7 separate regions of the Homo sapiens genome follow, and all the other regions are reported to be linked to region 7. The links are microRNA targets in miRTarBase. Many come from high-throughput screens and were not tested one by one. Region 7 holds a microRNA gene; each other region holds the end of a gene's coding sequence. Distances are from middle to middle.

The links. The annotated mature microRNA hsa-miR-548as-3p reads UAAAACCCACAAUUAUGUUUGU and lies in region 7 at 3,123-3,144, shown strand. An mRNA with a match to its seed (bases 2 to 7 or 8) in the 3' UTR can be bound and repressed. Matches are read on the target gene's strand: a 7mer-m8 pairs with bases 2 to 8, a 7mer-A1 pairs with bases 2 to 7 and ends in A, and an 8mer does both.
Region 1: miRTarBase lists PTGR3 as a target of hsa-miR-548as-3p. Seed matches in the 3' UTR shown: 7mer-A1 at 1,979-1,985.
Region 2: the mRNA of GTF2F2 is a reported target of hsa-miR-548as-3p. Seed matches in the 3' UTR shown: 7mer-m8 at 3,077-3,083.
Region 3: the mRNA of LHX4 is a reported target of hsa-miR-548as-3p. The part of its 3' UTR that is shown has no 7-base or 8-base seed match.
Region 4: miRTarBase lists USF3 as a target of hsa-miR-548as-3p. Seed matches in the 3' UTR shown: 7mer-m8 at 1,456-1,462.
Region 5: the mRNA of CDKN2AIP is a reported target of hsa-miR-548as-3p. Seed matches in the 3' UTR shown: 7mer-A1 at 1,423-1,429.
Region 6: the mRNA of ZNF101 is a reported target of hsa-miR-548as-3p. Seed matches in the 3' UTR shown: 7mer-m8 at 3,493-3,499.

Annotation. Positions count from the first base shown.
Region 1 is chr18:75,197,552-75,201,897 of GRCh38, forward strand. It overlaps PTGR3 (prostaglandin reductase 3), which reads right to left. Exons shown (of 2, transcript NM_175907.6): 2 at 1-4,346. The coding sequence ends at 3,865. Among named protein-coding and RNA genes, the nearest start is that of PTGR3, 9.4 kb to the right of the region's middle.
Region 2 is chr13:45,282,319-45,286,904 of GRCh38, reverse strand. GTF2F2 (general transcription factor IIF subunit 2) reads right to left here. Exons shown (of 8, transcript NM_004128.3): 8 at 2,012-3,463. The coding sequence ends at 3,344. Among named protein-coding and RNA genes, the nearest start is that of SNORA31B, 52 kb to the left of the region's middle.
Region 3 is chr1:180,273,465-180,278,050 of GRCh38, reverse strand. LHX4 (LIM homeobox 4) reads right to left here. Exons shown (of 6, transcript NM_033343.4): 6 at 1-3,866. The coding sequence ends at 3,472. It overlaps LHX4-AS1 (LHX4 antisense RNA 1), which reads left to right and starts at 3,370. Exons shown (of 5, transcript NR_037642.1): 1 at 3,370-3,400; 2 at 3,939-4,114. It also overlaps a transcript of ACBD6 not described here.
Region 4 is chr3:113,652,168-113,656,589 of GRCh38, forward strand. It overlaps USF3 (upstream transcription factor family member 3), which reads right to left. Exons shown (of 7, transcript NM_001009899.4): 7 at 1-4,422. The coding sequence ends at 2,777. Among named protein-coding and RNA genes, the nearest start is that of USF3, 42 kb to the right of the region's middle.
Region 5 is chr4:183,446,434-183,451,019 of GRCh38, forward strand. It overlaps CDKN2AIP (CDKN2A interacting protein), which reads left to right. Exons shown (of 3, transcript NM_017632.4): 3 at 1-2,631. The coding sequence ends at 994. Among named protein-coding and RNA genes, the nearest start is that of CDKN2AIP, 4.1 kb to the left of the region's middle.
Region 6 is chr19:19,678,919-19,683,504 of GRCh38, forward strand. It overlaps ZNF101 (zinc finger protein 101), which reads left to right. Exons shown (of 4, transcript NM_033204.4): 4 at 263-4,586. The coding sequence ends at 1,382. Among named protein-coding and RNA genes, the nearest start is that of ZNF101, 12 kb to the left of the region's middle.
Region 7 is chr13:92,487,077-92,491,662 of GRCh38, forward strand. It overlaps MIR548AS (microRNA 548as), which reads left to right and starts at 3,087; the gene lies at 3,087-3,144. The region is part of intron 7 of GPC5 (glypican 5); the gene reads left to right. The region is part of intron 1 of GPC5-IT1 (GPC5 intronic transcript 1); the gene reads left to right.

The sequences.
Region 1 (4,346 bases), not on the chromosome of region 7:
CTTAAAGTGACCACGGCAACCATACTGATAGTCCAGTTTAAAGTGACCACACCAACCGTTTTGATAATCCAGTTTTGTATTTTGACTTCTGAAATATGATCATAAATGTTTAATTCTGGGCCATAACTGGGAAATTAGTTACTGAACATCTAACTTTCAACAAAAAAGCCCATGAAGTTTACATAGATAATTCTTGTGTTTAACCAAGTAATAAAATATTTAATAAAATGAAAGTATACAGAAGAAAATTATGAATTCATCAAATCAGGCCGTTTTGCATCCAGATTGTATTCAGAAAACTTGTTTAACACCTAGGAAATTACTGTCCAAAGTTGATAGTGCTTGGTCTTTTTTATCAGTTTTTATTCTGAAAGCTGTGCATTACTAATCTACTTTTATGTAAATCTGAAATACAGTATTTATCCCATATGTCCACATGGTAAAGTAATCAAGAAAGATATTTTCAGTGCTTAGCACCCCCACCCCAATTTAAAGGAAACTCTGACTGTAGTAAATTCATGCTAATTGAGAACTCTGGGGAAGGGGTTAAAACATTACCCAGGTACAAGTCGGGTGGCCATTATAAACGTTACCCAAATAAAAGCCAGAAACAGGAAGCCAAAAACCAGGTCCCTAAGGCAGGCATGTGTCTTAAATGATATCATTTGTCAAGCTTCCAGCATCTTGTGGTGGTGAACACAAAAAGAAGGTCTGCGTTGTACTGAGGACATTACATCCTCATTAGCTGGAATGTTCCTCAAGTACATAATGCAGGATTTTCATTTTAATAAGAAGCAGCTACTTGTCACTGCACTTTCATTAGATAAACACAGAATGTAATACTAATGACCATTTACAGAGGCTCTATCCTACTCCTGAGGAACTTCATCCAGATGAAATCATATAATGACAAGTTATAGAATATATCATGCAAAACTTCCTTCATTTCTTTGCAAACTATTCCCTGAATTTTTTTTTTTTTAATGCTGAGGTCAGTTAACAGCAGTAGTCATCATCAAAGGAACCCCTAAATGACACTGCTGGTATTTTCTGCCTGCAAAACAGGCTTGAAGGAATAGCATTTGGCTCTTTAGAAGTCATAACCAAATGGTAACAGATCACTGGGACTCCTTGGTTTCTCAAAGAGGCAAGCTCCTTCCACCCTGCCCGGCTGGTGACCTTAAGCCCGACATGCAGAGAAGTCCACGCTGAGAAATAATTTACTCACTGGGATTGTTCCACCCTGGCCCCTTCTCTAAAAAGACTGACAATTGCCCTGAATTATGGATGTACTTTTTGTGATATGTATTACAGTTCAGAAGAAAGGTGTTGAGACCATCGTACCGTTTCACCTCCCATTAGAGGCTGGTCTTGAACAATAATCCCAGAAGATGAAACTGATGCTGAACTATGACCCTCAATTTACAAATCATTTTTCAAAAGAATAAAAAAAAGTTTAAACATATTTTTGGCATTATCTGAATGGGCGGAATCTTTCATGCTTGTTTTCTAAGAATAAGTGAAAACAGCATGCAGTGCACTTTCTTAGTTTGGGGAAAGAGAGAACATGAGGTTTTCAGATTATATTTTATTTTAATCCTGGGCGTTTGAATTTTATTTTTACATAGCTGCATTTAGTATATTCCCTCAAAACACAATAAATTTCTATTCTGTAGCTTAAGGGATCCATCAGTTAAAATGTTGGTCTTTCATCTTTATTACCCTCCCATTAAAATGAAACAAACCGGGACTCACTTCAGTTTCGAAGAAGCAATTTAGTTGGTAATGTCCTTACTCCCCAAGTCTTTACAAAGGGAGAAAGTACATTACTGCTTAGATTTCACACATCTATCTGCATAAGAAGCAACTAAGCCTTTTGGACATAGACTATGTTAAATTTAATAATATTCTTTGATTAGATTATTTTATTACAACATTTTTTCCATTACCAGTCATTTCCTGTGCACAGTTACATTCATAAAACCTGCTCCCCCCTCCTTTGTTTGTTTGTGAATGTAAAAGTGAGGCAAAGTCTCTTTCCGTGTGGCTGTGGCTGTTAGGTCTGAAAGGGATGGATGAATAACTAAGCACCACACTGGACGGGTTTTTCCTAGTCCCCTGCACCAGTAACCCTTTGCTATAATGAGGACACAAAGAGCCTCGCATCAGGCCGCTACCCTTCTTCATAACTCAAAAGCGTCACAGTGGCAATAGCCTCTAGTGCTATTTGTCTTTAGTGCAGTTGTGACACTTCGGCATGATCCATAATTTGGCAGCTATTTACCGTGACATTTCCCTTCAGTGCAGCCATAACATTCAGTGAAGCCATTATTTGGTTCCATTTACCATATAAATTGTATTGTTGTGCATGCATGCTAGCAGCTACATTAGGTACCTGAAAATGAGTAAATCTTGTAAAATAGATACTAACAGCTATTCAGCAGTAGGATTTCCTTGCTCCTCAGATGGAAGGAAAGAAAAATTAAATACAGTCCCCAAATTTCCTAGAGCATCTTTAATTGCGTCCATATTTACTGAGCAGGTTAGATACACCGAAACCTAAGACTTTGAAAAATAATCTGGTGGGCTTCACCTTCAATCAGAACGGGCCCATGGGGTTTCAGCGCAACGGTGACAGCGGCAGCAGTCTTCAGGGCACTAAAGGTTAAGAGGGAAGCCGATGAGCCACAGGCGTGACTCAGAAGAGAGGGTGCAGGTTTCGCTGCTTTTCCTGTGTGGTCAGTGGGTCAATGTGGGACATCAGGCTATAGTGCCAAGGAGCATCTCATTCCACCAGAACACGTGGAGAGAAAAATGGGAATGCAGAATGAGTGGCTGCTATTCTGTTTCCAGAATCAGAGGTAACGCATAGCTTCTAGTTCGAACGCCTCTAAGGAGAAGCAAATGTATTCTTCCTTGAGATGACTGAGGTCTCTACGGTGCACAGGGCGATGGGACATACCGTACCTCGAGCAGTGTAGCATGCTGTTACTAAGGCCTTGCCGTGTGCCTAGACAGCGCTTCCCTCCTGGGGCCCGTGTTTTGTGGTGAACCCCCACTGAGAATGGAGCGCACACTTTTCTCTTTCCTGTGCCTATATTAATTTTAAGTCCCCCTAATCTCTGTGGTTTCCCTTTCCAAAACCTACTTTCTGTCTATGTAAGTTTTCAACATTAATTTGCTGCTTCAGAGGAAAGAGAACATTTCCATTTCACATGTGCCTTATCAGGTTGATGGTAGATAAAAGCCATTACGTGCTACTTCTTCAAAACACATCTGTGTTCACGGAATCATTTTTCTAATAACAAAATCAAATTTGGGAGGGAATTCCCCCAAATGTCCATTTAGATAGTTGGTTGGTGATTTATAGAAAAAAAAAGGACCATTTCCTGAGGATATAGATTCTGAAAATATATGGCTGGCTTTTGCTACACTTGTCACTCATGAACTGCTTATGAGCATAAGACCAAATTCTCCCAAAGCAAAGAAGTCGGGAACCACTTTCAAAACTGATTTTAAAATCTGATCAAGCTGAAGACATACTGACTCGATCAGATCTGGCATCAGGAATGAATTTAGTTCCCTGGAACAATAACATCTGGAACGAGACCATCCATGACTAAAGAATTGAATGTAAGCGTTTTCCCTCTTAGCCATGGAGGGAAGTTTTATTAGCACATTTTTTTTTTTCCCCCAAGGGAAGAGGAGGAGGAGGAGGAGAAGGAGAGACCTATTCATTAACACCTTACTTTTGTTTTAAGAAATATTATATCCATTACCAACTAAAAATAAATTGATTTGAGTAATTCTGAGACATAAAGTGCCCATTTTCTTTCTCCCTTGATTTATGTCATTGTTCTGTTTTTACAGCTTACTGTTGACAGAGTGAGGTAATTCAACTACAATTTTTCCAGTGTTTTTTCCCATGTACATATAATTGACAGCACGGAATATGGACTCCAGGCCAGTAAACCTGCCCTCTGGAGACAGATCTCCAAGGTCCACCTCACAAACCAGGTCTCCGCTCACACACATCTCGAGCAAGTGGCTCATGGCTGCTTGATACTTAGAAAGGTAATGGTTCAGGAAGAAGCCCTGTACGCTGGCAGATTTCTTGAGCAGTTTGGCTGGCAATGTTCCTGCTTTCACAGGCGAAAGGCCAGTAGGAGTTTGGTAGCCAGAGATAAACCCTATTACTATCAAGCGCCCTTTCGTAGCCAGGGCGTCTACAGCCAAGTCAAACATGGCTCCCCCAACAGATTCATAGACCACATCGACACCTTCAGGGTACTCCTGCTTAAGGACGGTACCTACGGGTTCAGTTTTATAGTTGATAGGACGATCAC
Region 2 (4,586 bases), 47 Mb from region 7:
TTCGAGACCAGCCTGACCAACATGGAGAAAACCTGTCTCTACTAAAAAATACAAAAAATTAGCTGGGCGTGGTGGCGCATGTTTGTAATCCCAGCTACTCGGGAGGCTGAGGTAGGAGGATCGCTTGAACCTGGGAGGTGGAGGTTATGGTGAGCCGAGACTGCGCCATTGCACTCCATCCTGGGCAACAAGAGCGAAACTCCGTTTCAAAAAAAAAAGAAGTTATTGTGGTAACATGTAATTTCAAATCTTTCCAATGCCCAGCAACTATATCTCCCCTCTCGCCCATCCAAGACGGAGTCTTGCTCTGTTACCCAGGCTGGAGTGTAGTGGCGAGATCTCGGCTCACTGCAACCTCTGCCTCCTGGGTTCAAGCAATTCTCCTGCCTCAGCCTCCCAAGTAGCTGGGTTACAGGTGCCTGCCACTGCACCTGGCTTATTTTTGTATTTTTAGTAGAGTTGGGGTTTCATCATGTTGGCCAGGCTTTTCTCAAACTCCTGACCTCATGATCTGCCTGCCTTAGCCTCCCAAAATGCTGGGATTACAGGCATGAGCCACCATGGCCAGCCACAACTATAATTTTATTATATTTTGTCACTTAAAGCATCCCCTCAGTGTATCAGTTGAGTTTAACAATATCATTTATTAAATATGGCCTTCCTGGCCGGAAGCAGTGGCTTGCCTGTAATCCCAGCACTTTGGGAGGCTGAGGCAGGTGGATCATGAGGACAGGAGATTGAGACCATCCTGGCTAACATGGTGAAACCCCATCTCTACTAAAAATACAAAAAAATTAGCTGGGTATGGTGGCGGGCGCATGTAGTCCCAGTTACAACGGAGGCTGAGGCAGGAGAATGGCGTGAACCCAGGAGGCGGAGCTTGCAGTGAGCCCAGATCACACCACTGCACTCCAGCCTGGGCGACAGAGCGAGAATCTGTCTCAAAAAAGAAAAAAATATGGCCTTCCTGTCTTATGATGTGACATCTTACCAGAAGTGTGCATCTTCTTTATCTGTCTTCCTTTCACTCTCACAGTTTATAAGGGTTTAGGATTCCTACTTATTGATCTTTGTCAAAAGTCTGTTTGTCAGAGTAAGAGAGTCCTGAAATAAAAGAATAAGGGAACCTGGGTGGAAGGGAAAACCTCCTCCATGGCCAGCACCCACATTTTAACATTAAATAAGAAAGCAATTTAAGCCAGGTGCGGTGGCTCACACCTGTAATCCCAGCACTTTAGGAGGCTGAGGTGGGCAGATCACTTGAGGTCAGGAGTTCAAGACCAGCCTGGCCAACAAGGTGAAACCCCGTCTCTACTAAAAATGCGAACATTAGCCGGGTGTGGTGGCATGCGCCTGTAATCCCAGCTGCTTGGGAGGCTGAGGCAGAAGAATCGCTTGAACCTGGGAGACAGAGGTGGCAGTGAGCCAAGATCACACCACCACCGCACTCCAGCCTGGGCAACAGAGAGCAAGACTCTGTCTCAAAAACAAACAAACAAACAAACAAAAACGTAATCAGAAACAGCATCAGTCTAGCACCTAAATTATGTATCCTACTGAAGAGATAAGTGTTTAAGAGACTCAAGCTCATGCAATCAGGTGTGCTGAGGTAACAGGCAACTAAAAGAAGCAGAAAAAACCAGTTTACAAAAAAACCAAAGCACAGCTTCAAATAAGACACAGCTCTGCCCTGGGAACTCTTGTGGCACAGCCACCTCGTTCAATATGGCAGGCACTGTCCCCAAAACAAAAGACATCAGCAGAGGAGACACAGTCTGTTTCAGGGCAGTACCAAATATATAAAAAAACAAGGTTTTGGGGAAGATACATGCTATGAACCAAGCACATGGCAGGTATCCAGAATCCTCAGTTCTATATAGATTTATCAGACCATTATCCACGGGCTTCCTGACACAGAGCTTCCAGTCATCAGGAACTAGAAGGTGATGGGCATACCACATTTGGTGCCTGTACATAAGAAAATCTGAGGTGGAGTGGGGAATGGGAACACTTTCTTTACTCAGAATTTTATTTTTCAGTGTGTACACAGAATAAAAATCTTCTTAGTGCTATAACAATCTCAGAATTCTAATGCTTTGCTGCTAAAAGCAAATAATATAAAAATTGTTTTTCTCAATGGATAGATATCTTCTTGCTTTAATTATATAATATTTTCTTCAATTTTTGGCATTGCTCCTTCCTTATTTTTATTATTTTTTCTCTTTTTTTCCTGCAAACACTATGGCAACTTGGGCATTTGCTACTTCTTGATTGCAGCATCTAGAAGCAGATGACAAAATGAACGAGTGAAAAAACAACTTTTCCCTGTGCTTAGTTCACTTAAGCTTCTTTGTTTTGTTTGATGGTCTTGACAGTATGATTTTGGATCGCTTAATATATAATATTGTGTTGTGCTAGAAAAAACTAACATATACATGTATTGTTTTCATTTAAAAATTAATTAAAGAGAAAGAGAAAAGCAACATTTTAATGCCCCAGGAATTGAAACTAACGTTTTCTGTCTCGGCTGGACCCCTACGCCCATCTTTTGATTTGCTGATATCATTTGCCATGTGATGGTCAATACATGTCTGCTGGGTAAGCAGTAAAATTCTGGGGGCAAGCCAGTTTTGAGAAGCTTATAATCTGACTGGGGGAGACATATCTTCAAATTTTGGAAAGATATTTAATTTCTAATTATCTTAAAAGCAAATAAAAGAAACATCAACTGACCATGATCCTGCACATTTCTCATCTCAGCATCACTACGGTAAAATAAGCCAATGATGAACACTGCCATTTCACTACAAACTCTCTCCTTTTATTAACGTTGAGTATGAACACGAAACGTGATCACCTGTTTAAAAGAAAAACACCGCTTTGTTCTTTGACAATTTCAAAATAAGGAACTTTGGGTTTTTATTCCTTTTAAGAGTTTCTGTAGTTGACTGTTTTTTTCTTGCTATACAATTCTCCTTGGATCTGTATTACCTCAGCTCCTTAGATACGGCAAGGGTAGAGAGTCCTCACTTAAAAAAATTTCCTAATTGTACACATTAAAAGCTAATATTTAAGAAAAACCCTCTTAATCCTCCAACCCCTATTCCTACTGTGAATAATCTGGTTTAATACAAGTTAAGTCTATAAATAAATCTGTTCTTTCTCCTCAAAAAAACAGTTAAGAAACTTTACAAGAATTACAGGTTTAAAAAATTTACCGAGAGAAATCAAAGTACTGTCACTTAACCCCTATTAACATACGGTGTTCAAGCCTTCCAGTATCAGCGCCTTTTGCATAGCATCGCTGCTAGTCGTTTCACTAGCATGCTGGCTAGGAGTCTTCTTAGTCACTCTTTTCTTCTCCTTGATAGTGTCTGTACTCTGGCTTCAGCTCCCATGTGTTTTTGTGGATCCCTTTTACATTCTGAACACCAATTTCTTTTAAGATTTCCTTCAGGTACACCTAAAACAAAAACAAAACCCCTAACAAATGAGATTATAAATGCAGGGGACAAAACTTAAAATAAGATGATATGCCAAAGCACATATGCAAGCCATAAAAATTATGATCCTAAAAGCTCAGCAAGATTTCTCTATAAGGAGGTTCAATAAACTGCCTTTTGATTCTACATGTGCGACATGGTAACTGCACTAAATATATGATCATGTGCATTAAAGGAGTTGAAAGTCCTGAATGCCAACAACTTAAAAGCTAAAACAAACAAACAAAAAAAACACAAAAAACACTACATGAAATACACGAAAAAATTACTGGTCCTCACTCAGTGTGACACGGTACACCAAGGGTAATCTGCCCTTGAGTTCAGTGGCCTCATGGGACTCAGTTCACAGATTGAAACCAGTAGTTTCAGGAGCAGTAGCATATAAAAAAAATGAGCAACATTTTTGAGAATATTCTATCAAGCAGGCATATGACAGGTATTCAGAATTCTCAGTTCTAAGGTGAGTTCTCAAATTTGTTTTTAGGCCACCCACTTATTTTTTCCTATGTGAGAAGGAGAGTTGTTATTTGTATTTACTACTATTTGTACTTTAGCCAAGCTTGCCAACACAGATAAGGGAGTAAGAAGTGATAATAAGGCCGGGCTTGGTGGCTCACGCCTGTAATCCCAACACTTTGGGAGGCTGAAGTGGGCAGATCACCTAAGGTCAGGAGTTCGAGACCAGCCTGGCCAACATGGTGAAACCCCGTCTCTACTAAAAATACAAAAATTAGCCAGGCATGGTGGTGGGAACCTGTAATCCCAGCTACTAGAGAGACTGAGGCAGGAGAATCACTTGAACCCAGGAGGCAGAGGTTGCAGTGAGCTGAGACTGTGCCATTGCACTCTAGCCTGGGCAACAACAGTGAAACTCTGTCTCAAAAAACAAATAAATAAATAAAGTGATAAGAAGACATCCCCTAAAACTATCAGGGATGCAGCCTTGTGTTTGGCTTCTCCAAAGAAAAGAGTCATATTATGGTGTTTTAGGTCCCTAAAAATTCAATAAACATTTACTAAATGATTACTATGGTCATGGAAATGATGGCTATGTTAAGTGTAATATGAAACTAGACCTTTGCT
Region 3 (4,586 bases), not on the chromosome of region 7:
CCTTGAGCCCCCTCCTGTAAAGAGGCAGTTGGAAATCACCAGTTTGAGCTTCTGAGATAGGAATGTCTTTTGTTTTACAGATTTCTTACACTTCCTTGCAAAGTGAGTTTAATGATGAAGATCTAATGGCCCAATTATCTTACTAGGTTTCATGTTTTACACTGCCCCCCCCCAAAAAAAGTTTAAGGACACTGCCAAATGGTTTTCTTGTGGCTTAATTTTTTCCTCTTTCCCTGATGTTTCACAGTATTCATTTGCAGGAACAGTGTTATCAATGATAGTTGATCTTTATTTTACGTTATATTCATAACTGTCAGATGAGACAAGAAAGAGAAAGCACAAAGACTGAGAGGAATTTGCCTGAGGTTGCATAGCAAGTCCTTGAAGGGCCAAGAACCTGACTCCCAACACTGATTTACCCATCGGGCCAGCTTCTTAGCCCTTAAATCTGGTATTTCCTCCATGGTTTCATTACGTTCCAACAAACAGAGATTCCTCCATAGCCCCTCAGTTTCCATTTTGCTTATACCAGTTACCACTGGAACTTGGGGTTTTAACTAATTTGCTCCTGGATTCAAGAGCTTCCTACTCTAAAGTCGACCAGCCAGGCACTGCAGATAATGGTTGCCTCTAGAAGGTCTCATTTCATTTTTAAAATTCATCCATGTCATTTTAGCAAGGGGGGAAACAGCTACCATGTAGCACCTTATACCCCATAATAGACTTCCAAGCAACAGAGGAGTGCCTCTAAGAGAAGCTAAAAGTAATGAATGCCCGGCTTTTCTCCATTTCCAAACCCCAGAAGAGTCCTGTCATGCAATGGCTCATTAGTGGCACCAGCCCACCCATAATGCTAACCCAACCTGTAGGGAGATCCATTTAAAATCTTAGACCTACTGTGGCTGTGCTTCTAAACAGGCAGCAGTGTTTGCTGCTTTCTGGGGAGGTGGCTCTGGAAAACAAAGCTCTCCTGGTTTTCAGGCCAGTGCTCTCAAGGGTTTTTCCAGCTAACCAGCCCTACTGATGCCAAAGAACTATTGACCTCGTCAACTGCTCACTGAGTTCCTCAAGAGATTTATTATATTATTAGTATAAATGAGGAAGGCCTCTCCTTCCACTATTGAACTGGGAATTAGTATGATTAACTTACAAAAACTGGTCAACTTACTTACAGTGATCTTAAACAGTGCTACACAGAGGAGGATGCCCCCCCCCCTTTTAAAAAGCCTGCTCTCCCCCACACTATACTCACCAAAAACTTCAAGGGCCTCTGAAATCCCATGAGTTGCTAAGCCAAATAGTCAACCTGCAACAGTGATCTGGGTGGGCAGCTTTTCATCTGGTTCATTGCCCAGCAGAGCCTTTTCTCCTGTGTATTTTAAGCAGCCTGCTAAGAAGGGTGTATTTAAAAAGCCATCCTCCAAAAAGACGACTGCATTTTCCTTTCCTCACATGGCATTTGTGTCTTCCTCCCCACCCCAGTGTTCATGATTGGAGAATTCCCAATAGCACAGAATTGGCTAGGATTAACACAACATCATCCATAAACATGGAACCTCAAGAGAAGTGTCTATGTTTGCAGACTTCTCAAGCAAAAATCATGACCACTGCAGCACACCAAAAAACGAGGGTACGCTATAAAATTGGTCAGAGAAGAGGGCCCGAAGGCTGATCCCGGAATTTACTGTTTTAAAGAACTTACTTAATTGAACTTAGTTTAGTCCTGGAAAAGGGCTTACAAAAGATGTAGCAGTCCAAGAGGAACTGTGTATTCTTCCTTTAGTCTGCCTATGACATGCCTAAGTCTTTGCAGTCCTCAAAAGGTGACCAACCATTCGTAGAAGGAAGGGTCCTTAGGGTCTCTGGCCCCATCACTTCATGTGATAGGCAATGCCTTCTCACCCTTTCCTACTCTGCTGATCTCATTTAAGAGAATGGGAGGCCAGAAGAAGCAAACACAGCTTCCCAGAGGGACAGGAATAAATTCCAGCTGGCTAAATTCCAGTTTGCACATGGAGAGCTTCCTGATGGTAGATGGGTGCACAAGGTGGGTGGGAGCTGCAGCACCATTCAGGACAGCGTTTCCCACAGCAGTGCAGTCTGTCGCAGGAGTGGCAACTCGTAAAGCGGGGGTTGGCCTTGCTCTGGCCTCAGGCTTAGTGATTTGCTACTGCAAACCTGCACAACGGGGAGTCCCTGCACCACCACTGGCCAGAGAGTTCTGGCTTTCTGACCATGGGACTGCAGCCCAAGGCATGGCAGGTGTCCAGCCAGCAATCCAGAGAGATGCAGCCCAAGAACCACTTAGAACCCTTTGGACAATTTTAGGGCTGCTCCCTAAATTACTCTTCCCAACCAAGGTAGGCCAAAAAAAAATTGCTGGTTCCTGGAAATGACCAAAACTGTCCTCCAATTGAGTCAGCTAGGACAGCAGAGAAAGCTTTCAGAGGGGTAGACTTGCAAGCTCATCTAAACCAACTCCTTCAAAACAGACTCCAAATATTTCACCCTACAAGGGATGGGGAACTCTGGAAGACTGGCATCAGCCGATATGGCTGAACAGACTGCAGGTTTGGAATCCAAATGTGTCTACAAATGTTCACTGATTGATTGTCATTTTGTTCTCCCCACATTTTAGTTTTGCTCATTTTACAGCCCACAGCCTGTCTTGTGGAATAAATGATACAAGCAATTGAAGAAGGCACACTGTGCACCAAGGGGACGACTCAGGCAATCTGCAGCGGTGGTCCAGGGCTACTCAGCTCAGCCTCAGTCACCTGCAATGAAAACCACCTCTTGCCATCAGAGTCAATGATATAGATGGGACACTTAAAAACCAAAACAGGTTCATATTCTCTGGTTTGTAGGAAAGAATTCATATCTTCACAGCAAAAATAAAAAAGGAGGGGGCATGTTTTTAATATCAAACTGGCCATCAAAGTGTTCACTGACCTTTAATAACTGATCTTTTCATTTTGAAATATAGGGTTCAATAAGGATGGTCCAGAAATCACTTTTATTTTACTCAAGGGCTGTGAGGCCTCTACCTTAGGAGTCTCAGTTCTGGTGAGAGCAGTGTTTTGGGAGGCATTGTGTGAGACACACCAGTTGGAGCAAAGTTCCCAAAGGCCAAGGGGGCCTATCACAGTCACCTTGTGCTACCAAAGCACTGAGCAGCCAAGCCCCTAAGCAGAACAGCAGGGGAGAGACCCAACAAGCCAGTGTCCCTAGAGCTCTAGGCCATTACCCCCTGTGCTGTGTTCTGAGATGAGTCTGCTCTCCCACTGCTTCCCCAGGGAAACAATGCCCTAGTGTGGTCTCACAGCCTTCTAGGAATCAGCGGAGGACTTCCATTGAAAATAATGGAAATTCACATTGGCGTACTTTCGATCCTTAAAAGGCAAGTCTCTTTTGATCCTTGAAGATATTCTCTCAAGCCAGGGGGGCAGGTAGGGTGGGGAGGAGAGAAGTTTAAAAAGGAGGATGATCCATTTCATCGAGCCAAGAGCCTGGGCTAGTTGGAAAGTCGGGATAGCCTACACTGCTTCCTGTGGAGATGTCAGAGGTGGGTCCCCCAGCCATGGCTCTCAGCGTCTGGCTTACTCCCTGCCCTGCATGCGCAATGATGCCCAAATTACTGTCCACCGTGTAATCCAGCCCATTGAGCAAAGGAGCGTGGGATGGCAGGGACGATATGGAGGATGGAGACTGGGGGATTCCATAGGGGCTCCCATCCCTCAAGTCCTGATAGGATTGTCCTGTCCCGTCCATGGAGAAGCTCCCATTCATTAACTGTCCGCCTGTAACGTCCCCCACGTTGCCATAAATCCTATTGGTGTGGCCAAGTTCTGAGAGAATTTGATCCTCTGTGGACAAAAGAACGGAGATTTATTGTCAGCTGCCAGGACTCTGATGGTCCCCTGCTCTTCACAACCTAGGAACACACATGACCAGGAAAGATGCCCAAGGATGGCAGCTGCCTTGCAGCCAAGCATGGGTCAGACACACCAATATGGCAGCCTGATATCCAGAGGCCAACCCAGGCCAAGGAGAAAAACAAGAAACACCTGCAAAGACTAAATTCCCAGGTCCCAGAAGGATGGACAAATGTTTGGTGAGCTCGTTGGTCCCTTGTGGCTCGTGTACTAATACTCTGGCTACACTGAGGAGGATGAATGCCTAAGGCTGGGTGGGTCAGATGTCTCCACATCACAAATGGAAACTACATGCTGACAACATTTACCCTGAAAGCTTTCAAGCTGAGAAAGGGCTTGGTTTAGTTGATTGGGAAGCAAGCAGGCCCATATGGTCAGGGAAGCTGAGGACCACTCTTAGACATCTGTACAAAATCCTTCTGGTCTATCTGGAAGAGAGGTTCAATATCAAAGGACTTGGTTTCTGTCTGTATTCAATAAGCTCTTCACTGGGGACAAAGAATTGACTTGATTAAGGCAAATGAACCTTCTTTTTTCTTAAAGAATTTCATTAAGGGGATCTAATGGAATCTTTGCCACTTGAAAGAATTTCTCTCTCCAACAGAGGTGAGCAGTTTTAGTCTTTGAGAAATTATTCCCAGAGAAACCAAT
Region 4 (4,422 bases), not on the chromosome of region 7:
GCAGTGAGAGACAGACAGATGAGAGAGGGAGAGAGGGAAATGAATAGCCAAACACATGGAAAACTGTCCTTCTTGAAATTGGCACACTGGACCTTTCAAGTACAAAGAAAAATTTGAACGTTGCAGCTTAAAATTCAGTTAAGAGAATTAAAAAGCAAGTCATAAATGCCACATTTTTCCTCAATAAAAAGTTTTGACTACTGTGTTTATCTGTTGTCTTGAGTAACTTATTCATGAAGCTCTCCTATTCTTCCCCAAGACCATTTTGAAGAAAGAAAATACAGGTTGTTCTTGCTTTGTAAGCAAGAAAAAAAAAAATATTGTATATTTTTTTGTCCCTAGGAAGCTGCTTAGTTGGCAGCAGAAAAGAGACAGGACAGTTTGGTAAGAACAGTTAAAGAGGCACAAATGACCCTTTTGCTGAGTCTTTAGAAGAGGTATTCACTGGAGTTAACTGCTCTGACCAACCCTTAGGAAGCTTTTTAGGATTAAAAAAAAAGGGGGGGGCCTGGGAGGGGTGACTCATGCCTGTAATTCCAGTACTTTGGGAGGCCGAGGTGGGTGGATCACCTGACATCAGGAGTTCAAGACCAGCCTGGCCAAGATGGTGAAACCCCGTCTCTACTAAAAATATAAAAATTAGCCAGGTGTAGTGGCACAGACCTGTAATCTCAGCTACTCGGGAGGCTGAGGCTCAAGAATTTGCTTGAACCCAGGAGGCAGAGGCTGCAGTGAGCCAAGATCCTGCCATTGTAGACTCCAGCCTGGGTGACAAAGTGACCTTGAATATCTCCTGAGGAAGAGGAACTTGAAAAAGGAATATTCAAGGTGCTGTTCCTGGTGTTAGTTGCACCTAACGACACTCCAGCCTGGGTGACAGAGTCTCAAAAAAAAAAGAAAAGAAGAAAGAAAAGAAAAGCTGGTCCTTGAGTTCACTTTGTTAACAAGGCAGATAAAACAATTTCTATGCATCTCTCCCACCCCATCCCATTTTTGGCAGAATATAACAAGAACAAAAAGTAATGGACTTCACAGGTTTAAGAAAAGGAATATATGCCATTGTTTTCTTAGTTTTTTTTTTAAGTTTTCAAATTTTAATATGGGTTTTTAAACGTATTATAAACTTCTGTGGGGCTTTTAAAAACCTGTACCTAGGCCAAGCACGGTGGCTCATGCCTGTAATCCTGGCACTTTGGGAGGCCGAGGCAGGTGGATCACGAGGTCAGGAGATCAAGACCATCCTGGCTAACACGGTGAAACCCCGTCTCTACTAAAAGTACCAAAAATTAGCCAGGTGTGGTGGCACGTGCCTGTAGTCCCAGCTACACAGGAGGCTGAGGCAGGAGAATCACTTGAACCCGGGAGGTGGAGCTTGCAGTGAGCTGAGATCACGCCACTGCACTCCAGCCTGGGCAACAGAGCCAGACTCCATCTATTAAAAAAAAAAAAAAAAAAAAAACCCTACCTATATCAAGTTCTTCTATGCTTTAGCAGGTCTCAGGTCTCAATTTCCCATTTTCAGATGGCAGGCCTGTTTTTAAAGGACCAATTCATACTTTAAAATATGTGTACACACACACACACATACTTACACACACAGAGACATACAGAAAGACTATATATTTTTTGAAGCACCATTTCACATCTACCAACAAGAAAAATAACAAATTCATATTCTCATTATAATTCTGTTATGAAGGATAATAATGAAATATACAATGCCATATTTAAAATATAAATGCTATCAGTAAATGAAAATACTGACAGAGCTTAAATCTCTGTTCAGAAATATTTTTAAAGTAAGGCTCAAATAAACGTGTAGATTACAAACACTATTTCCTGATCAATCCTAATATTTAAATGAATGCAAAAGAATTTATTTCAAGACCAAATAAATAGAATGAAGAGAGAATACTAAATTAAACTCAGCTGATGAAACATCCATTGTTAACTGCACCCATGCAAAACTCCACAATACAACTAACTGCTTTTACCCTTATGACCCGATGCAAAATGCAAGCACAAAACGGAGAATATGTATGTACTTAACTTTTTAGCTTTCTATATTTACGGCTAAATAATTGTCTAAGGAAGACCTTTGCTTTAAATAATCTTGGCACATTAAAGGGTAACACAGCTCCCTAATTTGAAGAACAAGACATAAAATTCAGATAATTTATGCATTGTTATAATTTAGAAAGAAGCCTGTATCTAAACCAAACTTTGAGAATAAAGGCTGATTGCTTTTATTTATTTGCTAACTGCTTGACTTTAACTACGGACATTAAACTCAACATCAGTTCAACATCTGTCATAGGTAAGAAGCTGTTCTAGATGCTGACATTAGCCAGCACTTGATTATGAGCCACTGTGTTTTATCAAGCTGCCTATATTTTTCAGTAGCAACTTACCTACATATTCCATAAGTTATCAACAATCAAGTTTAAAGTCTAGGCTCCCTCCTACTACCCAGTACATGACAAGATGATCTCCCCCAATTTCCAGCTAATTAGTATTTAGGAAATATCAACTTGGAAATGTAAATCTACTTGGAAAATAAAAAAGTACACCATGCAGTTGAAAACGAAAGATAACTTGTTTTCTGACAACCCAGTATCTGCATCTGACATGGCTTCCCTACATTCAGAAGATAACTGAAAACTGATTATACAGACACACACACACAATCCTTCTCTTCATGTACATGTCTGTGCACATGCACGCACAAATACATTTGTAATCTCACTCATTACCTTTACATTTTGTTTATCAGTATTTAAACAGCTGAACTGCAATCATGACCTAGAATATGGCTTATGTTATGGGCAGGTCTGTTTGAGGACTGCTTGGAAGAGTCAGAGGCAGAGGAATTTGCTATTGTAAGCAAAGGTGACATTGCTGAGCCATCAGGAAGCGCTGTGGCTATTTCTGGAAACAAAGATGTCATATTAAAATTGGATAAGTGAGAGTTGGTCATGTGCATTGGTGGCATATCTGGGAGAAGAGGAAAACTTGGTTGAGCAAACCCAACAGGTCTGGGAGGAGATAAAATTGATCCAAATCGGTTATTTAAACTTCCACTGTTTACCTTCTCTGTGCTAGGATTTGAGAACATCTGATTAGGAAAATAGGGGATTGAAATATCATTGGACAGTGTAGGATGAGCAGGAGAGTATGGAGGATAGAAGGAGGGCAGAGTATTTTGCGGATCTACCGGGATGAGGGCTGGAGTTCGAGTGGCACTAGGCTGAGTAACCTGTGGAATGAAAGAAGCATTAGCATTTATTGGTGGATTCATGCCACCCTCAGGAATAAAAGAAAAACCAAAATTTTGTGATAGTGTATGCTGGTCAGGACCTGAATTATCATTAGGTACTTGTGGGCTATCAGGCATGAAACGAACAATACTTCCTCTCTTCTCTGTGGCAGGTTGTTGACGTCCAAGAATCATACTGCCACCAGTAGAGAGAGGAAGATGGGGAAGACTTGGATCAAAGACAGTACTTTGCCTTTGGTTTCCAGAACGATTCCTTTCAGGCTGACGAATTTTGGAACCACTGCTGTCTTGCAGGGGATGCCTTGATCTCTGGGGAACTGAAGAATTAGCTTGACGTACAGCAGGGCCTTGATCGCCATTTCCATGAGACACAGATGGATGTGGCAACGCTGGCCTTGCAACCCCATGCATGTTGGTTGTGACTGGAGGGTTCATGTGGCCCTTGGTGGCATGACTCTCAGTAATCCTCATGGGATTGGATTTCTGTACAGAAACATTGGGGCTTGTGTTTCGACCTTGAATATCTCCTGAGGAAGAGGAACTTGAAAAAGGAATATTCAAGGTGCTGTTCCTGGTGTTAATTGCACCTAACGACATGTCACAACTTTCCCTATTCTGACTCTCACTCTCTCTTCTAATATGGACATTTTCATGAGTTGGGGGACAATTATATTCAATTGCAGAGGATGGACCACACTGTGTATTCCTCTGATGTTCTGAGAGTGACCTCTGGCTCCCAATGACCTGATCACTGAGGTGAGGGGCAAGTAAGCTCTGCATGAAACTTTGGTGACAAGTATTTTCACTGTCCCTTGATGGAATACCATTTCCTGTTGGGATGCTCTGAACTGGTGGGTAAGATAATCTCTTTTGACGGTCAATTGGTGGGGGGCCAGTGTTTTGACTAATTCGAAAAGCCTGGGACTGCATACTCCGCAATGATGATACAGGGTTACCTATTTCATTGTTTCTTGAAGATTGTACTTCAAAATTACTCTGGGGCTGTTGACTAGCTCCACTTGGTTTAAACGTCTGACAATCAGAAAGGCGGATATCTGAGGCCACAGTATGGTCCACACGACCCTGCATATTATGAATAGCCAAACTCTTATTTCTGGGAACATCAAGATAGCTTCTCATTTCAA
Region 5 (4,586 bases), not on the chromosome of region 7:
CAGTGTGAATAGTCACATGACCCAATCCACTGATTCTAGACAACAAAGTGGATCACCTAAAAAGAGTGCTTTGGAAGGCTCTTCAGCCTCAGCTTCTCAAAGCAGCTCAGAGATCGAGGTGCCCTTGTTGGGCTCCTCAGGAAGCTCAGAGGTAGAATTGCCACTATTGTCTTCCAAACCTAGTTCAGAGACAGCTTCAAGTGGGTTAACTTCCAAAACTAGTTCAGAGGCAAGTGTTTCATCATCAGTTGCTAAAAACAGTTCCTCATCAGGCACATCCTTACTGACTCCCAAGAGCAGCTCTTCAACAAATACATCGCTGCTAACTTCCAAGAGCACTTCCCAGGTAGCTGCATCACTACTAGCTTCCAAGAGCAGCTCCCAGACCAGTGGATCTCTGGTTTCCAAAAGCACTTCCTTAGCAAGTGTGTCCCAGTTGGCTTCTAAGAGTAGTTCTCAGACTAGCACCTCACAGTTGCCTTCTAAAAGTACTTCACAGTCAAGTGAGAGTTCTGTCAAATTCTCTTGCAAGTTAACCAATGAAGATGTGAAACAGAAGCAACCTTTTTTCAATAGACTATATAAAACGGTGGCATGGAAGTTGGTAGCTGTTGGTGGCTTTAGTCCCAATGTGAATCATGGAGAGCTCCTAAATGCAGCTATTGAGGCTCTGAAAGCAACACTGGATGTATTTTTTGTCCCACTAAAAGAATTGGCAGATCTGCCTCAAAATAAGAGCTCTCAAGAAAGTATTGTTTGTGAATTGAGGTGCAAGTCTGTGTATTTGGGCACTGGCTGTGGAAAAAGCAAAGAAAATGCAAAAGCAGTTGCATCAAGAGAAGCATTGAAGTTATTTCTCAAGAAAAAGGTGGTGGTAAAAATATGTAAAAGGAAATACAGAGGCAGTGAAATAGAAGATCTAGTACTCCTTGATGAAGAATCGAGGCCTGTAAACTTACCTCCAGCACTAAAACATCCTCAAGAATTACTATAATGTGTCCAAAATATCACTGCATACAATATCTGGTATTTGAAGAGAAAAACTGACTTTTGTATAGTATAAAACACAGGCTTTCACAAATTTTGTATTGCTTTTTTTCCAGTTTTGCAGAAAATTTACATTCTAGTTCTCTTCACACAGTAGCAGTTGTAAATAATTTATGAATGACAGTACACATTAAAAGGTATGCATTAGCAGCATATTAGTATGCTGTTTTATTTGCTGAAGAAAATACTGTCTTCTATTTTTAATGATACATTAGGTACGATGTGTAGTTCGGTAGAGTCCTAAAATTTTTGTACTACTTTCAATTTGGTGAAAATGTATTAAGTTGTCTACCATGTTTTCTTTTCTAGCTGAATAAACCACATCAAAGGAAAGGGACCACAGTATTTGAATGTTTGAAAGTCTGTAAAGCTTAAGGTTTTAAAAATGTTGCCCGTAATGTTGAACGTGTCTGTTAAAAAATAAAAGAAAAAATAGTTGCTTCAAACTATTTTTATGAGAAGTTGTAAGCATTTTTTAGATATAAAGCAGTATAAAGTACTTGTTATTTTACTCTGAAGTTGTTTAAAATTCACCATGACTTTGACCGCTGAAGATTCTTTAAGCGGGTTAATTTATGTTTTGAGGTGGAATACAATTTACACTTTTTTCTTAAAAACATGAATGTGGGTTTCTATATTAAGCATATTTTGTGACTACTATTAACAGATTGATTTGTTTAGATATTAAATGCTTTAAGCTATTTTACCTTTTCAAGAAGTTGTGTTTTTTTTCTCCAAGTCAGAACCAATTCCTGCAAATAGGCTTCCCATGACTTGTCATTATAAATTAGACAACCAGGTAATTGTGTGATATACATCTTTATTTAATTTTTTTTTTTACAGCAATCCCCTGAGCCAGAATAGATTAAAAGCGATTCCCTTCAATTTTCAAATCTAGAACTGGATGGTTTTTGTGTTTATGCATCTTTTAGAATACCGGAAAGAACAGAGAGCCGTGTTCAGCTCTTGATAATGAGCCTATTCAATTTAACTACATTCGTTAAAATGAAGTGGAATTTTGTTTTCGTCTTAGGTGATTCTGCCTGTTTGTCTGTCATTGTATATTCTGTTTACTTTGCTTCAAACTGGCCCCAAGATGTTATTTTTGTGGTTTCTGGCTTTCTAGATTCTATTTTTAGATACTGCCCATTGAGCAATAATGGTGATAATATAGAGAGAAAAGAAAGACCTTTCATGGGCCAGTTGTGTTGGAATAGGAAAATCAAACGTAAGCACAATTTAAGTATGTAGCAGTTATTCCTATTTTGTATTCTAGGAATAAAAAGATACTTTAATTTTTTATGCTAGAATTACATAATTACATAATCAGATGTTTTAATTTTACCATATAACCTTTAAAAATGATTCATTTTTGAGGATATTTAATTGGATACCAAAGCTAAAATCCATATACTGTAAGTGGGTTGCCTTTATAGATTGCGGGACACAATAACATGAATGTATTGTGAAAGCACTTTTAGTTACCTCACTTTCCTCAGTCTTGGAATGTGTATTTTGTGGGATAATGATTATCAGAAAAGCAAAAAATTACAACGAACAAATAAATTTATATAATATATCCAATTAGGTGGTTTGGTAATTTCCTAAATTGGCTTGTTTCAAGTTACTATGAAGGTTATTGAGAATGTTTTATAGTGACTTTTGATGTGGAGGAAGTTGTTTAGTGTACATTTATGATAATCCTATTTAAAAACCTAGAAAAATGCTCTTGGTTAATAACATTTAAAGAATCCTGGTTTAAGAGAAATGCATATTTTAGAATTCTATTATTGAGAGTGAATCTTGGCTGTCTCTTACTAGACATGTAACCTCTGGGAATTTAACCTTTTAACCTTACTTCGTCTGTGAAATAGGACTAATAGCTGTCTCATAGAGCATGGCAGTTAGATGAGATGATACATTCAAAGTGCCCGGCATGGTGCAGATATCCCATGGTTCACTTATATATTCTTATTCCTCTTACAAGGAGCTCTTCTCATTTGGCCTACTTTTCAGATGGAGAAACTTACACAGAGTAATTCGGTCAGATAATTCAAGCCCATATCTGATTTCAAAACCCAAGCTCAAGTATGTTGTACTGCTTATTATCCTTGTCACTTCTCTATATGCTGAAATTTCTGAAAATCCCTCCCAGAACGTGATTTTTTACCAGATTAAGTGACCGCATCTTTCTAAAGCCTCCTTGAAATGAGTCACTTCAGAGGCTCTTCTATTATTAATGCTTCTAATACTTGCATATCTTGAATATCCTCAACTAGTGAATCATCCCATATGGATGCAGTTGAACTTTGTAAAAAGACCATACACACACAAAAGAAATCTGCACAAAAAACCCCCCAAAACCAAAAAACCAAACACACCTGCCTAAAATAGTGTATAATCAAGTTGAGTGAATAAAGTCGGCTACCAAGATGGGATATACTGCTTTTTTCAGATGAGTGAGGGGAGACGATTTCCTGAGACATCAAGATTTTTCTTGATGTTAGAATGAGATTTTTTTTTTAATGGTAAAATTAGTTGACTTGTAAGAATGATACTGTCATGAGTTTTTGACCTAAATTCTTGGAGCCTGTCACTGCTGTCATTGGCTAGGATAATTGTCATAGGGATATGTGTAACTTTAAGGCCTTTGATATGTATTATCAGGAGCCTGCTCCAATTTGAATTATGTTTTCCCTGCCAAGTGCAGCTTTTCTTGGTACAAATTTCTACTTGCTGTTTAGATTTTTGAGTAACAGCAGTGAGAAAGTAACAAAAACAAGCCGCAATTGGGAATCAGGTCAGTCCTACAGGTATTGTGTTACTACTTTGTGGACTTTGTCCTCAAAAATTGTGCTGAAGTCCTATATTGACCTACTTTCTAGACATTGGTTATCCATTCCTGCATGATTTTTAAATAATATTTTCTGTGATTGATGAATAAACTATTTCACTTTCTACTAGAACAAAATGTTCAAGTTGAATGAAGGGTTAAGCCATTTATTGCCCAACTATTCCTCCCCAAGAAAAATATCAATCATATTTCTTTGGCATCCCTGCACACAGCTTAGTTGCCATCCAGTTAGAACCATTTCTTACTACCAACTTTAATTTTAATATCTCTCGATTTTCCTCCTTTTGTTTTTGTTTTGTTTTTTTGTTTGTTTTTTTTTTGAGACAGAGGGAGTCTTGCTCTGTCACCCAGGCTGGAGTGCAGTGGCGTGATCTCGGCTCACTGCAACCTCGGCCTCTTGGGGTCAAGCAATTCTCCTGCCTCAGCCTCCTGAGTAGCTGGGATTACAGGCGTGCATCACTACACCCAGCTAATTTTTTTGTATTTTTAGTAGAGACGGGGTTTCACCATGTTGGTCAGGTTGGTCTCGAACTCCTGATCTTGTGATCCACCTGCCTCAGCCTCCCAAATTGCTGGGATTACAGGCGTGAGCCACTGTGCCCAGCCGATTTTTCTCCTTTAAAAGTCATTATCTGAAAATTATTAGTTTTTAAAGTTCTTTTTCTGTTCCTTTGCTATTCATCTA
Region 6 (4,586 bases), not on the chromosome of region 7:
AAATCTATCCTTCAATGTAATGTAGATGTTGAGTGTCTGGACAGGGTACTAAGAATCTGTGACATGGATGTCACTGTTTGGATAACTGCTATGGGGAGCTGGGTAGCAGAATCATCAATACACTTCCTTTCTAATAATTCTGACCCAGGAGAAAACCTCCACTTTTCCTGATTTTGGTAGCAGCATAAGTCTTAAGACATGTCAATTAGTAGAAAAGCATTAATAAACCAAGCATTGATAATGCGTTTGTCATTTTTCATAGAAGTCTGGTGGAGAGACTCTGTGGACGTAAAGAAGGGAATGAACACAGAGAAACTTTCAGCCAGATTCCTGATTGTCACCTGAACAAGAAAAGTCAAACTGGAGTGAAACCATGCAAATGCAGCGTGTGTGGGAAAGTCTTCCTCCGTCATTCATTCCTGGACAGGCACATGAGAGCTCATGCTGGACACAAACGATCTGAGTGTGGTGGGGAATGGAGAGAGACGCCCCGTAAACAGAAACAACATGGGAAAGCCTCCATTTCCCCCAGTAGTGGTGCACGGCGCACAGTAACACCAACTCGAAAGAGACCTTATGAATGCAAGGTGTGCGGGAAAGCCTTTAATTCTCCCAATTTATTTCAAATCCATCAAAGAACTCACACTGGAAAGAGGTCCTATAAATGTAGGGAAATAGTGAGAGCCTTCACAGTTTCCAGTTTCTTTCGAAAACATGGAAAAATGCATACTGGAGAAAAACGCTATGAATGTAAATACTGTGGAAAACCTATCGATTATCCCAGTTTATTTCAAATTCATGTTAGAACTCACACTGGAGAAAAACCTTACAAATGTAAACAATGTGGTAAAGCCTTCATTTCCGCAGGTTACCTTCGGACACATGAAATCAGATCTCACGCGCTGGAGAAATCCCACCAATGTCAGGAATGTGGGAAAAAACTCAGTTGTTCCAGTTCCCTTCACAGACATGAAAGAACTCATAGTGGAGGAAAACTCTACGAATGTCAAAAATGTGCCAAAGTCTTTAGATGTCCCACGTCCCTTCAAGCACATGAAAGAGCTCACACTGGAGAAAGACCTTATGAATGTAATAAATGTGGTAAAACCTTCAATTATCCCAGTTGTTTTCGAAGACATAAAAAAACTCATAGTGGAGAAAAGCCATATGAATGTACAAGGTGTGGTAAAGCCTTTGGGTGGTGCAGTTCCCTCCGAAGACATGAAATGACTCACACTGGAGAAAAACCCTTTGATTGTAAACAGTGTGGTAAAGTCTTTACTTTTTCAAATTACCTTAGACTTCATGAAAGAACTCATTTGGCCGGGCGTAGCCAGTGCTTTGGCAGGAGGCAGGGGGATCACCTGAGCCCAGGAGTTTGAGACCAGCCTGGGCAACATAAGAAGGCCCCATATCGGCTGGGTACGGTGGCTCACGCTTGTAATCCCAGCACTTTGGGAGGCTGAGGCGGGTGGATCACCTGAGGTCAGGAGTTCAAGACTAGCCTGGCCAACATGGTGAAACCCCGTCTCTACTAAAAATACAAAAAAATTAACTGGGCATGGTGGTGGGCACCTGTAATCTCAGCTACTCGGGAGGCCGAGGCAGGAGAATCGCTTGAACCTGGGAGGTGGAGGTTGCAGTGAGCCGAGATCACGCCATTGCACTCCAGCCTGGGCGACAAAAGTGAGACTCCATCACACACACACACAAAAAAGCCCCATATCACGTGGTGGCTCATGCCTGTAAAACCAGCACTTTGGGAAGCCGAGGTGGGTGGATCACGAGGTCCAGAGATGGAGACTATCTTGGCCAACATGGTGAAACCCCGTCTCTACTAAAAATACAAAAATTAGCCAGGCGTGGTGGTGTGTGCCTGTAGTCCCAGCTACTCGGGAGGCTGAGGCAGGAGAATTGCTTGAACCAGGGACTTGGAGGTTGCAGTGAGCCGAGATCGCGCCGCTGCACTCCAGCCTGGTGACAGAGCGAGACTTCGTCTCAAAACAAACAAAAAAAAGAAGGCCCCATATCTCCAAAGAAAAAAAAAATTAACTGGGTGAGGTGGTGCATCCCTGTAGTTCTAGCTGCTCAGAAAGCTGAGGTGGGAGGAACCCTTGAGCCTGGGAGGTTGAGGCTGCAGTGAGCTGAGATCGTGCCACTACACTCCAGCCTGGATGACGGTGACACTCTGTCTCAGAAAAAAAGGGAAAGAAATAATTCTCATTTATACAGGAGAGAAATCCTATGAATGTAAGGAATATGGGAATACATTCAGTTTCCAAAGATATGAAAAGACTAACTGGAAAAAAATCCAAAGACCTCAGATATTCCAGTTCTATTCAGAGCCATAAAAGGACTCATACTGGAGAAAAATTGTAGAAATGTACAGAATATGGGGAAACTCTCATTGCTCTCATCTCCATTCAAAGACACGTGTCAGTGCACACTGGAGATGGATGGTATGAATCGAAGAATACACACTGGATGGAAACGTTAGTAGTTTGGAAAATACAGGAAACTTCCATTTTAACAATAATTAAAATTCACATGGGCTGTGCACAGTGGCTCTCCCCTGTAATCCCAGCATTTTGGGAGGCTGGGGTGGGTAGATTGCTTGAGGCCAGGTATTCAAGACCAGCCTGGCAACCTGGAGAAATCCCATGTATACAAAAAATAGAAAAGTTAGCCAGGGATGATGGTGTTCGCCTGTAGTCCCAGCTACTCAGGAAGCTGAGGTGGGAGGATTGCTTGAGTTTGGGAGGTCGAGGTTGCAGTGAGTGGAGATTGCGCCACTGGACTCCAGCCTGGGCAACAGTGAGACCCTGTCTAAAAAAATTAATCATGTGAGAACATCCACTCGAAAGAAATCCTATAAACGTAAGTAATTTTGAAAGCCTGATGCAAATTAATTATTATATAATGCTCAAAAACTTAATCATGAATGAGTTATTACACAAAGTTATAAATATATAGCATTTATCAGTGGCTCATTCTTTTTTCTTTCTTTTTTTTTTTTTTTTTTGAGATGGAGTTTTGCCCTGTCGCCCAGGCTGGAGTGCAGTGGCACAATCTCGGCTCACTGCAACCTCCGCCTCCTGGGTGTGAGCAATTTTCCTGCCTCAGCCTCCTGAGTAACTGGGATTATAAGCACATGCCACCACGCCTGGCTAATTTTTTTGTATTTTTAGTAGAGACGGGGCTTCACCATGTGGTTCAGGCTGGTCTCAGACTCCTGACCTTGTGATCCGCCCTCCTTGGCCTCCCAAAGTGCTGAGATTACAGGTGTGAGCCACCGCGCCTGGCCTTTTTTTTTTTTCCCGAGACACAGTCTCACTCTGTTGCCCAGGCTAGAGTGCAGTGGCGCGATCTTGACTCACTGTAACCTCTGACTTCTGGGTTCAAGCAATTCTCCTGCTTCAGTCTCCGAAGCATCTGGGATTACAGGCGCACGCCACCATGCCCAGCTAAATTTTTGGTATTTTTGTAGAAACAGGGTTTTTCCACATTGGCCAGGCTGGTCTTGAACTCCTGACCTCAAGGAATCCATCCTCTTCAGCCTCGCAAAGTGCTGAGATTATAGGCATGAGACACCTTGCCCGGCCCCTGTGACTCATTCTTAAAAAGGATCTTTGGATTATGGGTTTCCACTTTTGCAAGGAAATGTGAGAATGATACTCTTTAAGCAGTGGTACCTGAGGTTTAATAGGAAGTGTTTTTATCCTAAGTTAGTTAATAAAATTTTTTTCTATCCATTTTGGTTTTCATTTTTTTCTATCCATTTTAAAGTGTTGGATCTGTGGGTGAAGTGAAATTTATTTCTAATATGTAAGCAGGTTTAATTTTTATGTAGTGTTTAATTGTTCTGTGATGAATGGGCCATTACAAAATGAGTCTATTTTTGTTTGTTTTCTTTTGTTTTTGAGACTGAGTCTTGCTCTGTCGCCAGGCTGAAGTGTAGTGGCGCGATCTTGGCTCACTGCAACCTCCACCTCCCGGGTTCAAGTAATCCCCCTGCCTTAGCCTCCTACAGGCGCGTGCCGACATGCCTGGCTAATTTTTTGTATTTTAGTAGAGACGGGGTTTCATTGTACTGGCCAGGATGGTCTTGATTTCCTGACCTTGTGATCCACCCCACCTTGGCCTCCCAAAGTGCTGAGATTACAGGAGTGAGCCACTGCGACCGGCCCATGAGTCTTTATTAATAGAGATTTCTTACTGGTGTTATGTGGCAGATTCTGCATATTCCTCACCCATCATATGTATTCCACTTTCCTTTATTATGGGGAAAACTACTCTTTTTGGCATGATACAATGTTGACTCCATTTTCTTTGCTAATAAGGACTTGGTATCAATTTATCAGTATGTAAAGTTTACCATAGAGTATTGTCTCATGTGAATCATTCCCATTTTTTGCTCTTTACTCTTTGTCGTTATTTCTGAGTATTATTTGGATGGTTCATTTTGACTTAAGGATAGCCCTGTGATATGACAATATTTTTATCTAATCTGATGGAGAAAGCATTTAGTCTCCTGATCAAGTATGATGTTAGCTGCAGGTTTTTAATAAATGCCTTAATTCAGTTTG
Region 7 (4,586 bases):
AACTCCTGACCTCAGGTGATCTGCCTGCCTCAGCCTCCCAAAGTGCTGGGATTACAGGGGCCGTGCCCAGCCAGGGAATTTTTGTTGTCTTAGAAAGTCCTATGGAGAGTGCTGCTTTGCTGTATTTGCATGTAGTTTTATCATCTCCATGCAGTTAACAGAATGTTTTCAGGAGGAGAATTCCCTAAGGTGAGAAACTGGTTTTCTCAGGAGACTATTTGGACAAATGACAACCATGTTATTTAGTGAGAGTGACCACCAATGGAGCCCTATACAACTGTCACTGGCACTGCCTGAAGGGAATTTATAACCAGGAGACTATTGCTGTTCTTAGTTGTGTCTAAAATTGCATTGTCATGATTCACCAAAGGCATGTCATGATGTACCATGTGCCTTTTGAGATGGGATAATACTTATCTATAAGATGGTATGATTATCAGATTGACTCCTTCTCCTACAAAGAAGCCTCAATATATTTCAAAGAGTAGAAAACTTTCTGCATCCCAGAGAGCAATGATTTTTATCATTGAACAGTGGAAGTGTTTATTTCCAAACTATTTAAGTGCTGCACGTGACCCCAAAGTTTATCTTGAAATTAGTTACTACACTGAGACACAATTCTGTGAGAAATGGAAGTAAATTTTAAGTGATCCCATCTCAGGCTAAGTAGCTTGCTGAGAGTTGTGAGACAAACATCTCTATACTTTGATGCTTTTCTGTGAAGAAAATCATGATTATAAATATGGACTATATATAAATATAGTAAAAAAAAAAAAAAAAAAAAGAAAGTAAAACCTATGCTATTACAGGCCAGGAGAGCAGATCCCTTTGATGAGAAGAGGTAAGGATTAGTGATTGGAAGGAAATATGAAGGGAATTGTGAGGATGGATGAATTTCTGTTTCTTGATTAGGGTGTTTATGTGCAATTTTTGAAGTCATCAAACTGTATACTTATAATATTTGCTCTTTTCTTCATATTCTACCTCAATAAAAATGTGAACATATGCATGAACATACATACCCAGATACGTATGTGCCTGAGTGTGTGTGTGCGCGTGTGTGTGTGTACAGGCATATAAGTTTGTAAATTTAATCCAGTATCAAAACTCAATGAAAACCCATTTTTTTCTAACGTGGCTGTGACTAATTATTTAAGGATTGCAAACTTACTAAACAGTCCAAAATCTTTCAAACCAATTTAAATCAAAGCATAATATTATCGAAAGATTTAAATTTATGCATCACTTTTCCGTGATGGAATGCTAAGTAGATCCTATCCAATGCTTACTTCAGATCCACTTCATTTCCAAAATGCCACTGAAGCATAAGTTAATTAAATTACATAGATTCTAGGCAGTGATGGGAAAAGTAATATTTGATTAAGTGCATATGCCTGCAAAAATCCCTCCGTTGCCATACGTGCTGATACATCAGCTGCTTAACTGCTGGCATTTTTAATCTATCCAAAAGGAAGACATATTTAAGTAGGTTAGTTATTCCTTGGCTTGTGAAGTGCTATCATTTTTGTTGTTTGCTAATAGTCCTGTAAGGCAGAATTCATTCAAAGCCAGACAGGAAATGCAATGACATAAAACCTGGTATTTAGAGTGCATATGCTCAGAATTCACAGCGATACTGTGTCGTAGGTGGTGGTTTCTTGCAGGCATTGCATTTCTCTTGATTCATGATAATGTTTGAAGCTTTGAAAGTGAAATTGACTAAAATTAATTCTACTTGTGAAACTGCCCTCCGGAAAACTGTTCATGTCTATGTGTATCAATGTGCTAACATAGCAATAGCATTTAAAGGCTTGACAATAAAGGCAGTTACTAACAAATAAAACATTAGAAAGGGCTTTTTTAACAAGTAAATTTCAGGGGAATGGTTTCAAGTTTAGACAGAATTATATACAAGTTCCCAGATGTTCATATAAATATTAATATATCAGTTATTTTCTATTTGACTCAATTATGCACAAATCAGCACATAATAATTTAATCAAGCTCTTCATCTCTCTTTGACAATACATTGCATCATGGAGTAGAGAAAGAATGTGAAATTCAAGGTGGCTAGTCTACTGCTAAACTCTGATGAAATGACACAGAATAATGATTTAACCACCAAACTAAGAAAAATCCTTCATTTTCATGTACATTTTACCTATGTCCATTCACTTATCTAATGATCCTATACATATTTATCAAGTATTAGTATGTGCAGGGCTATGTCTTCGTTGCTAGAGATACATCTTGTGACTCACCAATTCTCTGTCCTCATGGAGTTTCTATTCTAACGGGGAAACAGAATACTGGCAGAAAACAAACCAGTAAATACATCATGTGTCAGATATTGATGAGACACGTGGAGAAGAATTAGGCAAGGTAATTTGCATAAAAATTGTGAGATGAGATGGAGTGCTGATGTTGTTATTTTAGTTGAGGGATATGGACAGGGTTACTCGAAAGGTGGTATTGGAGTAGATAACTGAAGGAAGTGAGAGATACCCACGTGGATACCTGAGGCAGGGCTGCTCTCAGAAACTCACCTAGAGTTTGCCATTAAGCTTGCCATTACTACTTTCAGAAGAACTCAGAATATTAATTTACTTTCTCCACATTCCCTACAGTATGGATGAAGAAATATCACCACGTTCTTTTGTTTGTCTAGACACACAAAATATCTACAGTAGTTGGAGGTACAGACAGAGCTGGGACTAAGGCTTGATTCACCTATTCATAAGCCAGGAAGGAACTCTTGGTTGAATGTAAAAAACAAAAAATATGGTCATATTGCAAACAGAAAAAAAAAAAGTCAGCTTCTAAAAGGATAAAATATAGGGCAAGTTTCTTGGCAGGATTTTAAATGATTCTGTGGAACTTCATTATGACATATTTGTCCCTAAACATTATATGTAAGTTTTTATTTTTAACATGTGCTTCTTCCTCTTAGAATGTCTGTTTACATACTCTTCTTGTGCATTTTAAAAAATTTATCTATAATGTGCAGTTAAACTTTTCAGCGCATTGTTTCCCGAAAACTCCAAGCTGAATTGTTCTCGGTTCTTTGTGAATTATTAGGTCAGTGCAAAAGTAATTGCGGGTTTTGCCGTTGCTTTTAATGGTAAAACCCACAATTATGTTTGTACCAGCCTGATCCTAAGCAATCTCATTATCGTCTAGATTCTGCCACTTTTCATTGTATTATTATATCTATTTTTTCACTAACAGAAATAATTTTTAGTGTCCCTAATGTTTAGTGTTGTGCATATTTTAAAATCTTAATGTTTTCCAAATAAATAAATGAACACGAGATTAACTTACAGGTAGAAAAATGTATAAAACCTCATCAAAAATGATGGCTCTCTAATCAGTATCCTTGCTATACATTGTAAAGGGACATTAAGTATCCACCCAGCCTTTAGAGGTGGAAGACTGGCTCTACCACTTAATGGTTGTATAATAGTAAACACTTTGGTAAGCCTCAGTATCCTGAGTTCTAAAATAAACATATAAATGGTGTTTGTCCCAGTGGTCTGTTTAGGGTCACAGTGACTAACGTATATAAAAGATATAAAAGTGTTTTGTAAATTTTAAAGTGTTTTTCACCTCTTCATTTTTATGACTAATTCTAATATTATCTTATATTTGAAAAGCATAGGGACATAGGAAGGAATTAACCGTGTAACAGATAATGAACTAAAAATTTTCTTAAAAATAATTGACTGAAAAGATATATTGGGTTGAACCTATACTAGTATAAATAGTAGTTCAATAAATCCAAGCTAATTATTGGAGGCAAGAAAACTACAGTGGAAATCTTTGTACTTATCATGAAAGAAGCCTTGTAAAATTTATACAGGAATAACTGTCAACTCCATCACATGCAGGGGGTACAGAATGAGGTAGAACAAAGACAGATACCTATGGAAACTGAGAAGGACTCAGATGGTCTCGTTACTATATGGAACCAAGTTTCTGCTTAGTGACAAATCAGAAATTTATTATGTTTTCTTGTCAGGAGATGTGTACTCAATTGCTGATTATTTCAGAATTAAACCTATGCTAATGGTTTACTATCAGATCCATGTTAATTAAAAATTTAAACTTGAAAATGATTCTGAGATGTCCTTGATATGTGAAGTGCTATTTTAATTTGTTTTGAAACATTCTCCATAATTACAAGCTATACAGAAAAAAAGATCTGATTTTTTTAGTCTTCAAGTCCACAAAAATAGGGACTAATAAAGAAAAGGAAGAACCAGAATTACTTTATATAATTCAGTCAACTTTTTGACACACTTGTAAAACTATTATATTTTAGAAATGTGCAATTAATAGGCATTTTCATGTTTTATACACATATTAAGATGGGTAGTTTTTGTTTTGATGCTATAGAAACATATTTGATCAATATTTTCTCATGGTAAAGCAAAGATTTTCTCAACACACATCGGCAGCACGTTCTTCACATTCATTTGGTCAGGAGATTTTTGTGAATAAATGGGATTTCACATTTATTCTTATATTCATAATAAAATATAAGAATTAGTGCACTTGGCCAACCGTGTAGATTATCCACTTCAGCA